2 separate regions of the Homo sapiens genome follow, and region 2 is linked to region 1. Evidence: fine-mapped expression QTL. A gene starts in region 1. The other region holds a variant in brackets. All regions are shown on one strand. Distances are from middle to middle.

Region 1 (5,378 bases):
AATTGCTCCTCTCATCGGAAGTCACACGCTTCTGAAGAGTAGCATCAAATAAACTAAAACCATTATCTTCACTAAATTCCTTAATATCCTCACCTGATAATTCCACAAATAATTTTTCTTGCTTTAAAAACATTTTCACTCCTTCCTGAATGCAAAACAAGAGAGTGTCCCAGTTCTGAAATTCAATCAGAGTTTTGGCTGGCTCCATGCACACATCATACTCACAGAATTGGCACTGCACATTAATTACATATATGCCATAGAGTTCTGGGGTAGACCGGTGCCGAAGACTTGAATTCATTTGCCTACTGGTGGGACCATTCTTTGGCTTGCATATAATACTTTCTTTCCTTAATAAAAAGTCAATGAGTTTATGTAGCTTTGTCCTTAAAACTAGTCTTTTGTTCACAAACAAAAACTGCATATTCTTGTTGTAATGTGCTTCAGAGCTGATATAGCCACTAAGCTCAAACTCTTTATATTTAAAACTTATTTCTCTTAGCTTTTGGGACTTTCCCAATCCATAAATTTGACAAAATCGGGAACATACGTCTTTGGTTTTAGGGAGCTGAAGAACCATGGAACCAGAAACATCATTTCTCAAAGAGAAAGAAATGGAAGGGTGCATGAGTGAGAGAGCTTCTATTCTCTGCCTAACCTTCTCAAACTCCAGTCTAGGGTCCATGCATTTCCTCCTTACAGGAAGCTGGTAAAATAGGTTATACACTGTTACAGTAGTCCCAGCGCTTGCTCTAGTCACATCAGCTTCACAAGCTTTCAGGGCTTTTCCACTCTGAAACAGTTTCACAAAAGTTTTCATTGTCCTGTTTTTCTTGGACGAAATTTCCACAGCACTGGCCATGTCAGCAATATTTGCCAAGGCCTCTCCTCGGAAACCATAAAACCTTGGATTCTCCAAGTCCTGTACCGAGTGGCATTTACTGGTGAAATAACGATTTCCCACTTTCTCTACATCATCACTCCCCATCCCAAATCCATTGTCTATCACTTGAACTTGGAAGGTTTCCATATTCACCCTGACAGCCACACATTTTGCTTCAGCATCAATACTGTTGAGGGCAAGTTCCTCAACACATTGGCCCAAGGAGCTTATGGCCAAACCAGAACGCAATTTGGCTTGTACTTCAACTGACAAGCACTTGATCATGGTAGGTAGAAAGATGGTGAGAATGCCAGGCACTGGTTTCCTTCTCTGACTGGAAATAATTGCCTATTGGAGAAAAAAACCACACACGCACATAATCAAAGCTTTAGCATTACACAGCATTATGAAGAAATAGCACTTGAGGTAAATGAAATCACTCTTATTAAACCAAATTGTGAAACAAAGCAAAACAAAGTTATACCGCTGATCTCTAGGCACAGCTCATGCTTGGTGCAATGGATTAACATCCAAAAAAAATTCATAATTTCATAATTTTCAATGCTCCTTTCTAAATCCCACATGTCCTAAAGTGAAATCATAATTACACTTGAAGTTGACCAGTAAACACAGTATTCGAAATTCTAACCACTTCACCAAAAACAGATGCCTAAATTAAATACAGCTAAGGAACATTAGCTAGAAATTATTCATGACAAAAATGTCCAAGCTAGTTTCATAACATTTATACATTACACAATAACCATGACTTTTAGAAAAATACTTATAATGAATTGCTAAGACATTGTAATAAGGTGAAGCAATAGGAAGAAATTTTAAGAATCAAATTGTATCAAAGAGAGATTGGGGGCATTAAGAGGTTATTATTATTATGGTTAAGTATAGTCACCTCAGGGAAAGAGGCTGGGAATGGGAAAAGATAAAGCAGGAAAATTCCTTTTCATATAAACCTTTCTTTGCCATTTGATTGTTAAATCCTGTTCATGTATTACTCTGATGTTTTTAGAAAGTCGTTATTATTCTTTTTTGAAACAGTCTCACTCTGTCACCCAGGCTGGAGTGCAATGACACAATCTCGGCTCACTGCAGCCTGCACCTCCCGGGCTCAAGCAATCCTCCAGCCTTAGCCTCCCGAGTAGCTGGGATTACAGGCGCTCGCCACCATGCCTGGCTAATTTTTGTCTCTTATGTAGAGATGGGGTTTCACCATGTTAACCAGCCTGGTCTCGAACTCCTGAACTCAAGTGATCCTCCCGCCTTGGCCTCCCAAAGTGCTGGGATTACAGGTGTGAACCACCGCGCCCGGCCAGAAGGTCATTATTAATATTCTTTTGGTCTTTACAGATGGGCATAAACTACCTTGGTAATAATAATGATGGCATGGGGCTGCCTGAACTTGATTTTAAGTTTTCCTGCAAGTGAAAACACAAAAACAAAAAACAAAACAAAAAAAACCAAACCCTAAGATTCCAGTGCCATTAAAGGTCTCCCCTTCTTCTCCATCAGTGAGAGCCACGTGGGTGGGCCCCTGCAGGCGGTGGGGCCGGTTTTCCAAACTCGGGACAAATCAGGGCTCTTAACTGCAGAATTTCTGCTGCTTTCTAAGCTAATGCACTAAGCAGCCGGCAGCAACTGACGGGTAAACGTTTAACAAGTATTCCGATTAATGTAAACCCAATGATTTCCTGATGACGCCTCCCAGCGCCTGGGACTGACGGGACGCACGGGCCTGGATCCAGGGCACGGGGGCCTGGGAGGGCCGCGCGGGCCGAGTCCGGGGCAGCGCTGCCTTCCCGCCAGGCCCAGCCCCTCCCTGGCCAGCCCCGTCCTTGTCCCCAAACTGGGCCCGCCCGGCCGCCAGGCCGCCGGGCCTCCGGGGCCCTCGCGCATCCGGCTCCGAAAGCTGCGCGCAGCCATCATCAGGGCCCTTCTGGTGTTAGAAGAGACCCCGGCATCATCTTTTCGTCGCGTGCTTCCCCCAGAGTCACCTGGAGTCCCGCTTAACAAATTCTCCGACACCAACCGCCTCGGACGCCGACGCGCGCACCTTGGATCTTGAGGCTCGTGCGTGCCCACGAGCATGCGCTTCGGAGGGGGCGCGCCAGGCCGCGAGACACCAGTGCGCATGCGCACCAGTTGTTCCAGCCAAGGATCCGCATCCCAGGGTTCAGTGAACCGGTACCTACAGTCTCAATCCTTATTCCCTTTTGGCATGGTGTTAAAGACTATGTCGTAGCTTTTACTTTTGTTTTTATTTTTTTTTCCCGTGTTTTCCCTTTCCTTTTTTTTCTCATTTTCACCTTTGCTCTTAACTACCGTTTAATTCAATATATATTTTATGTGTTTACTTATTGTCTTCTCTCCCTAGAATGTAAGCTATGTGAAGGTAAGGAGTTTATATATTTTGTTTACTGCTGTATCCCAGTTACCAAGAACAGTGCCTGGCCTATGGTAGGCACCGAATGAATGAATAATTCCAGAGCCTGCCATCTTAGAATTATGGCATTTGGAGCTGGAAAAGGCTGAGAAACTGTCTAACTCAACTCTTTTTTTTTTTTTTTTTTTTTTTGAGACGGAGTTTAGCTCTTGTTGCCCAGGCTGGAATTCAGTGGTGCGATCTCAGCTTACTGCAACCTCCGCCTCCAGGGTTCAAGTGATTCTCCTGCCTCAGCCTCCCGAGTAGCTAGGATTACAGGCATGCGCCACCACACTCGGCTAATTTTGTATTTTTAGTAGAGACGGGGGTTTCTCCATGTTGGTCAGGCTGGTCTCGAACTCCGGACCTCAGGTGATCTGCCCGCCTCGGCCTCCCAAAGTGTTGGGATTACAGGCGTGAGCCACCGCACCCGGCCTTTGCTCAACTCTTAATTTACAGATGACAACACCAAGACTCTCTTCACTGACTTGAATCTCCCCAGTGCCACCACAGCTTTTAGTTATAAAAATAACTAAAGGAGAGCAGAACTCTGAGAATGCTGTGAGAATAAAGTGTTTTGGAATTGTTAACCAGTCCTTAGTTTTTGCTTTCTATCTCATTTTCATTGAGAATTTAAAGTGGAATTTATAACGAATTTGTCAGACCTGGTAAGCATTTGATATATGCTAGTTTAGTGACTAACCAAACCCAACCAACCAGTCTTCTAGGGCTGATTAAGCAAAATCCTGATAACTGTTTATGATTATTACTATACCTAGGGCTGCCATAACAAAATACCTCAGACTGAGTAGCTTAAGCAGCAGAAGTCTATTTCCTCTCAGTTCTAGAGACTGGAAGTCTGAGATCAAGGTGTTGGCAGCAACGATTTCTCCTGAGGCCTCTCTCCTTGGCTTGTAGATGGCCATTTTCACAGGGTCTTTGATTTTTGCACACGTGTCTATAGCCAATATGTTCTCTTATAAGAACACCAGTCAGATTGGATTAGGGCCCACCCTCACAGCCTCATTTAATCTTAATCACCTCTTTAAAGGCCCTATGTCCAAATACAGTCACTTTCTGAGGTACTGGGGACTGAGACTTTAACATATGAATTTGGTGGGACACAGTTCAGCCCATAACATAACTTTATGTGAATTCCTTACCCAGAGAAAAGAAACAACAGCAGAAGTAATTCATCCAAACATAAGGTGAACAGAGCTAACAAATTGAACTTGTGGTATTTGTTCTTATTAGGCATGGAATTTCTTGAAGAACATTTCATAGAAACCATTTAAAGAAATGACTCAGACTTTTTTTCTTTCAGACCTCTTTAAATTACCTCAAAATCCTCTTCCTACAAATGTTTACTGAATAAAGACCTCTCATTTCGCCCAAAAGGAAGTTCACTGAAGATTTTTTAAAAGTACTCTAAGCAGAAGGTTCTAACGTTTTTATTGATTAGATTTGTGTACAGTGGTAATCCTTCCATCATACAGGTAATATATAATAACATTCAAAAATCTGACATTAAAATAACTTATTGACTAATGCTAATATTAACACACAATAGTTCTATCTCTATTAATAATAAAAACCAAACCACTGAGTTTATCTTAGAAAACTTAAATTCAGGCCATTATTTTACAATTTGGAAGTCTGAGTAATCCAACTTCAAGATGACTTTTTCATTGTTGAAGTTTGCTTTGTCGATGTGTGATTTAGGACTTCCTCTTGTTTCAAGCCATTCCTGCATATGACGCACCTTGGAGATGGGACCTTGCAATTGTCCTTGCACTGTGCCCCGGTCAGTGTTCTGGACCCAGCCTACCAATCCCAGCTTTTTACCCTCAGCCTAAGGGGGGTAAAAAGAGAGAGAGATCCAGTGAGATTGAAGAAAACAAGGTAAGACTACAATCTGTTGCCAGAATCTTGGCCTAGAATCAAGCCACTGAAACTAATTTGATATTGCCCAGAACAGTCAAAAGAAAGACAGCAAGAAGGATCTCATTGCTTATCTTCACATGAAGTATTGGCCACTTGACTGCATGTCTTTCTTCT
Region 2 (5,310 bases), 36 kb before region 1:
TTTTTCCCACGGTTTCTATCTTCCAGTTTGGGCAGAGGGCAGGAAAGGCACAATTCTTGGAACTTGAATAAGGAACAGAAATTCCTAATTTAGCCTCAGAAGAGACATCTCTGAAAAATACTCTACCAGGAAAAACTGAAGTGTAAAATGATACCTCAAAGAAATCAATGCTGGAACCCATAGGATCATATGTTTCATGGATGTGCTTCAAAACTATTTCTCAAAGCAATCTGTTGCATCAGTCTTTGGGCTAATGAAGGCTGCCAGTCACAGTTCCATCATGGAATGACTGGCATACTCTGTAATGATCTATAATACTACAACTACATCAGAACTGCTCTGCCATACAGATAGTACCAGATGGTGATGTGATTATTGTAAAGGCCTCACACTATCCACCTGTCCTTGCAAAAACTCCCTTAGCAGACATGCACCTAGTTGACATGAAAGAACAATTTTGAAATGTGATTTGGAAGTGTTTTATATCTGGCCTACTTTGCTTTGAATTATTCTTTCATTTGCCAAAGAGCTCTTGCAAGGTACTGCACAATGGCTAGGCAATTATTATTATTAATAGTAAAAACTGCAATTGCTTTTGCACCAACTTAAAGAGCTAAAGTCTAAGCTTCCAGTCTCCCAGCATCCCTCACACGATGGAGGGCAGCACTTGAGTCTAATCATGCTTGAGATGGTGATTGCCTGATATGTATATTAAATACTATGCTGAAGAGACGGATCCTTTCAATAGTGTTTTTTTCAAGCATGTTACATTTAGAATTAAGACCTGCCTAGAAAATAAGCTACTTAGTGCTGAAGAAACAAAAACTTGACAAGATTCCTAAGTTATCATTTATATGTAATATTCTTCCTACAACACTGGGTTTGGAAGGATAATAAATACATAAAAATAAAATTCTGCAGTTAATATGAAAAAGAGGTAATGCAGTGTTGAATAATGAGAAACTGCTAATTGCGGTAGCTAACTCCAAGCCACTTTTTTTGGACTGCTCGGCCCATCATGGGGCATTCCTTACTTTGGAAGTAGATAAGAGCAAGTTGGAAGGCCAGAGTCAGGCAAGGCTGGCCAAATCCCACTTCTGCAGGCTGCTGCTTGAATCATCCTGGCCTGATAGATTCCCACATGCAGCACACTGCGATTCCCACACGCTTGGATCCGGTTGCCTGGACTATATCCGATGCTTCTGGGTAAGACTGAGTGCTCTGTAACTAATGGGCCTGGGGTGAAAATGATCCAAGGGTTGGAAACATCCTAAGCCATGTGATAACCTCTTTTTTTTCTTTATATCCCCCACAAGTTCTGATACAATACATTTAGAAAGGAACTCACTGAAGATTTGCTGAATGAAGAGAGGGATGGAAGGAAAAAGGAAGGAAGGAAGGGTTTATTTGATGCAGATTCTTCAGCATTTTGTTTTCACAGACTCCCTTCTTTTCCCCTCTTCTGGACCCACCTTTTTGCCATCTCACCGTTGATGAGCAGCTTCAGCTTAGAGGGTAAAGACAGGCATGATCGCGACTGGCCAGCATACTGGCCGGTTCTCTCTGTTAGCAGACTTTTGCCAAGGGTTTGGATGGAATGGGTGGCTCTTCAGGTGGAAAACAGGTCGTGGGGGTCAGGTTTTGGGTGCCTGAAACTGCTCTTCCTTCACTCCACTGTGCCATGACTGGCTCCCACCCGAAGCTTCAGCTGAGCTGGCTTGTCAGGGCTCGCTAGGAACTGCTGAGCTGCATCTGTCCTTACTTGGCGTGGCTTCCTCAGCCCCCTCCACATCTCAAGAACGTGGCCTTGGGCCCCTTTCTGCTCTGACCATTTTGCTTGCCTGGGTTTTTTCACTGTCTGCCATGCGCAGATCCCAGCTGTTCATTTGTACCTGACCTCTGACTGCTAGAACCTCTCCATTCTTACATCTCATGTAGTTCCAGGTCCCCAGCCAGGTTCTGGATGTTACCCAAGCCCCCTCCCCATTCTCCAGCTTCATTCTAGCCTACACTTTATGCTTTGCCTTAAGCTTTTCTGATACTAGCTCCTATTACCATCTCTAGTCTTAATTCTGATAGTGGGACTGCTAGCTCCTCTTCTTTCAATAATAAAGGGCTAGCTGTAACTAGCTGTGACTCTGTGATACCTAACGCCAGAAGAAGCTACTATATTCTATCATTAGTTTCCTTGTCTTTCTCAGTGACTAAAGCTAAGCCTCTTGAAGGTAGAGACAGCCATAGGAACCTTCACTTCTCAATGAAGTGTTGATGAATGTTACAGAAAAAGGAACTCTCAAGAATGGCTGCATTTTACATCTCATCTCTCAAGTTTTACTCTGAAGTTACTAAAGCCTTCAGCGACCAGAATCTAATAAAGGTGAATCACCAAGTTTATAAATGAATGAATTCCTAATAAATTAAAAATATAAGGGATAGCATATGGGTAATAATGGGAAGGACTGTGCAGTTTGAAGTCACTCAGACCTGGGTCTGAATTCTGGCTCTTACAGCTAAGCCTTCAGCAAACCAGTTAACAGCTCCGAGCTTCGAAGTTTTATTATACAAAGGTGACAACTAGGTTCCTAAGAGGAACCTTCGTTTCCCACTTTGTAAAATGGTGATAAAGCTACCACCTTACCTCATGGACTGTCAAGAAACTAAACTAAGATAAAGTATGAGAAAAATTATTTTGTAAACCTTAAAGCACAATATAGGTATTAATGATTACTATTATAAATTACATGTATCTTTGTTCTTATGGCATCTGAGTTAAAAACAACATAAAACCCTAACAGGCGATAAAGGTAATCTATTAGAT[A/G]TTTTTCCCTAATAGGTTGTTTTTATGCTGAGGCATGCCCCCACACTTATAAATTATGAAAACAGAATAATTATCTCTTACATTGCTTGAGTCAGGCTAGTCAGGAAGGCCGGTTACATAATTTATGGAGGACTTTTTCTAATCCTCTGCTACTCTCAAGAAAACAGTAGTTGGGATTACATATAGCAAAACCTTCTGAAATCATAAGAGGCACTGAGACACTTTTTAAAATCCCTCAAATTGGTCTGGCCTTAAAAGATTTTTACAACTCCCAGGACAGTTGGCCTCCATGCAGCCCTCAAGCAGGGAGGCGGAGGCCCTGAGGCCACACTGCCACACTGGGCCTGGAGGCAGAGCCCCTGACAGCCTGGCAAATCCTCTGAAAACTCTCTCCTTTCTAAGGTCATGTCTTCCCATCTATAAAACATCCGTTTATATGTATTTAGAAGAATAAAAGCCATTTTTTAGACAGTAGGGCCTGTTCTTCAGGATTCCAATTACGTAAATCTACAAGGATCCCCTTGAAAACAAGTGAAGGTTTTCTCTGAACCTTCTCTGGGGCAGACGCTAATGAATGCAATACTTTCATTGCTCCTGTAAGATTCACTTCAAGGCTGCTGGCAAAGGAACTTTTCTTCCATGAGCACGAATTGGTTTCCTGTATTAAAAAATGAGGAAAATCATTCAATTGATATAAAAGCCACTTTGAGCAGGCTGGTCAGGAAATACAAAAGTAGAAATTCTCATTGCATCATCTTACTAATTGTATAGCACCCCAGTTGCAATAAACATTACCAGCTGGCTTTTTGCATTTTTTTTCTACTATGCAATTTTAGTCTGTTGAGTCCTATTAACCACAAATCATGTGAAAAGGTGCGGGAAAAATAGATTGAGAATGGCATAACAAGCATTTGCAGAACGATCAGTCCTGGTCCCAAGTGATATTATAAGGGCAATAGATAGGCATAATGTAATAACACCAAGATACCGTTTGAAAGGGACCCAAAGAACCCTTGTCTCCTGAAAGAAAAAGTGTAAAGATATTTGGTTAGGTTGAACGTATGTATGCTGTGTTTTGATATGACAATTGCTTTCACATAAAGAGATACTTTATAAAGTACCAAAAAAAATCATATTTTAAAAAACAAGCTCATAGTATTTTCACCATTTTACTGGTTTGGGATATTGAACATCAGTCTCTGAGTTTTTAAAGAAAACATAACAAAAAACCCGGAACAGGACTTTAAATTTTCTCTGTTCTATCCTTGTCCTTTTTATCAATAGTTTTTATCCCTAAAATAACTAAAGGCCTGATGAAAGACCCTAGAGAATGTTTTCACTGTAGTAGAGAAACTCTTTAAGTCTGAGATGTAGCACATGAAGCAGCAGCATAGGGAAGTGAAGAAGACTGAAGGGAAAAGAGGGGACCAGTGCAGAAACCCTGGGGGCAGCCTGGGAAGGCAGACTACCCCTTGGACTTGAGCATCAGCTGAATTAGATACACGCAAATGTGAAGCTTGAAAAAAAACTGTACAAAAACAAAAATCACACCCTTCAAATAACAAACCAAGCAACCAATCAAACTGTCATTAAATTTTATCATTAAATAAGTAGCAAAAGGTAGATACTATATAGCAACCTTCTGTGCCCATGGATGCAAATGAATGAATTGTCTTTAGGCTTGAATTTCATCTGGCTACTCAACTAGGGGAATCATCTGCTCAAGAAAGACTGATACAGAGAGCCCTGCTGTCTAAGCTGCTCAGGGACACTGGGCTGATTCAGTCAGGGCCGTGCTGGTACCTGCTGCTGCTGCTCTCTGCTCAGAGGCATACAGTGAACATCCCTTTGTTCCTTTTAGACCAGTGATTCTGTTCTCATGGTGGCTCACAGGGAGGCATGGATTGCTGCAGGCTCTGCCTTGTATCACACTCTGCTTTTCCAAAGAGACGCCAGGCCTGGGCCATTTTGCGAAGTTTAGTGAGGTTGGGTTTAATCTATGGGAAGAAAGAATAACTTCAATTAGCAATATGAAAAGGTAGGTAGCATACAGGCTGGGCGAGGTGACTCACACCTGTAATCCCAGCACTCTGGGAGGCCAAGGCAGGCGGATCACAAGGTCAGGAGTTTGAGACCAGCCTGGCCAATATGGTGAAACCCTGTCTCTACTAAAAATACAAAAAAAAATTAGCCGGGTGTGGTGGCGCATGCCTATAATCCCAGCTACTCAGGAGGCTGAGGCAGGAGAATTGATTGAACCTGGGAGGCGGAGGTTGTGGTGAGCCAAGATCATGCCACTGCACTCCAGCCTGGGCGACAGAGTGAGACTCCGTCTCAAAAAAAAAAAATTGAAAATGTAGGTAGCATACAAATATTTCCAAAGTCTGGCTGTTATAATCTGTTTAGATTTCTAACTTCTGGATTCAATAGAGATTACAGATTGTTTTAAGGATCCAAGGGGACTCAGAACTTTAAGTCTAGATTCCCAGCTC

What was found. PIP is the estimated chance that this variant, and not a neighbour inherited with it, causes the effect. A credible set is the group of variants that fine-mapping cannot tell apart.
Region 2: its variant is the best candidate, but not a certain one, in a credible set for the expression of MLH3 in whole blood (INTERVAL, PIP 0.69).

Annotation. Positions count from the first base shown.
Region 1 is chr14:75,048,488-75,053,865 of GRCh38, forward strand. It overlaps MLH3 (mutL homolog 3), which reads right to left and starts at 2,980. Exons shown (of 13, transcript NM_001040108.2): 1 at 2,893-2,980; 2 at 1-1,231. The coding sequence starts at 1,168. ACYP1 (acylphosphatase 1) reads right to left here. Exons shown (of 3, transcript NM_001107.5): 3 at 4,756-5,172. The coding sequence ends at 4,957. RefSeq lists a silencer at 2,593-2,782.
Region 2 is chr14:75,012,387-75,017,696 of GRCh38, forward strand. MLH3 (mutL homolog 3) reads right to left here. Exons shown (of 13, transcript NM_001040108.2): 13 at 1,389-4,815. The coding sequence ends at 4,696. Among named protein-coding and RNA genes, the nearest start is that of EIF2B2, 12 kb to the left of the region's middle. The variant A/G (reference allele first, on the strand shown) is at 2,819.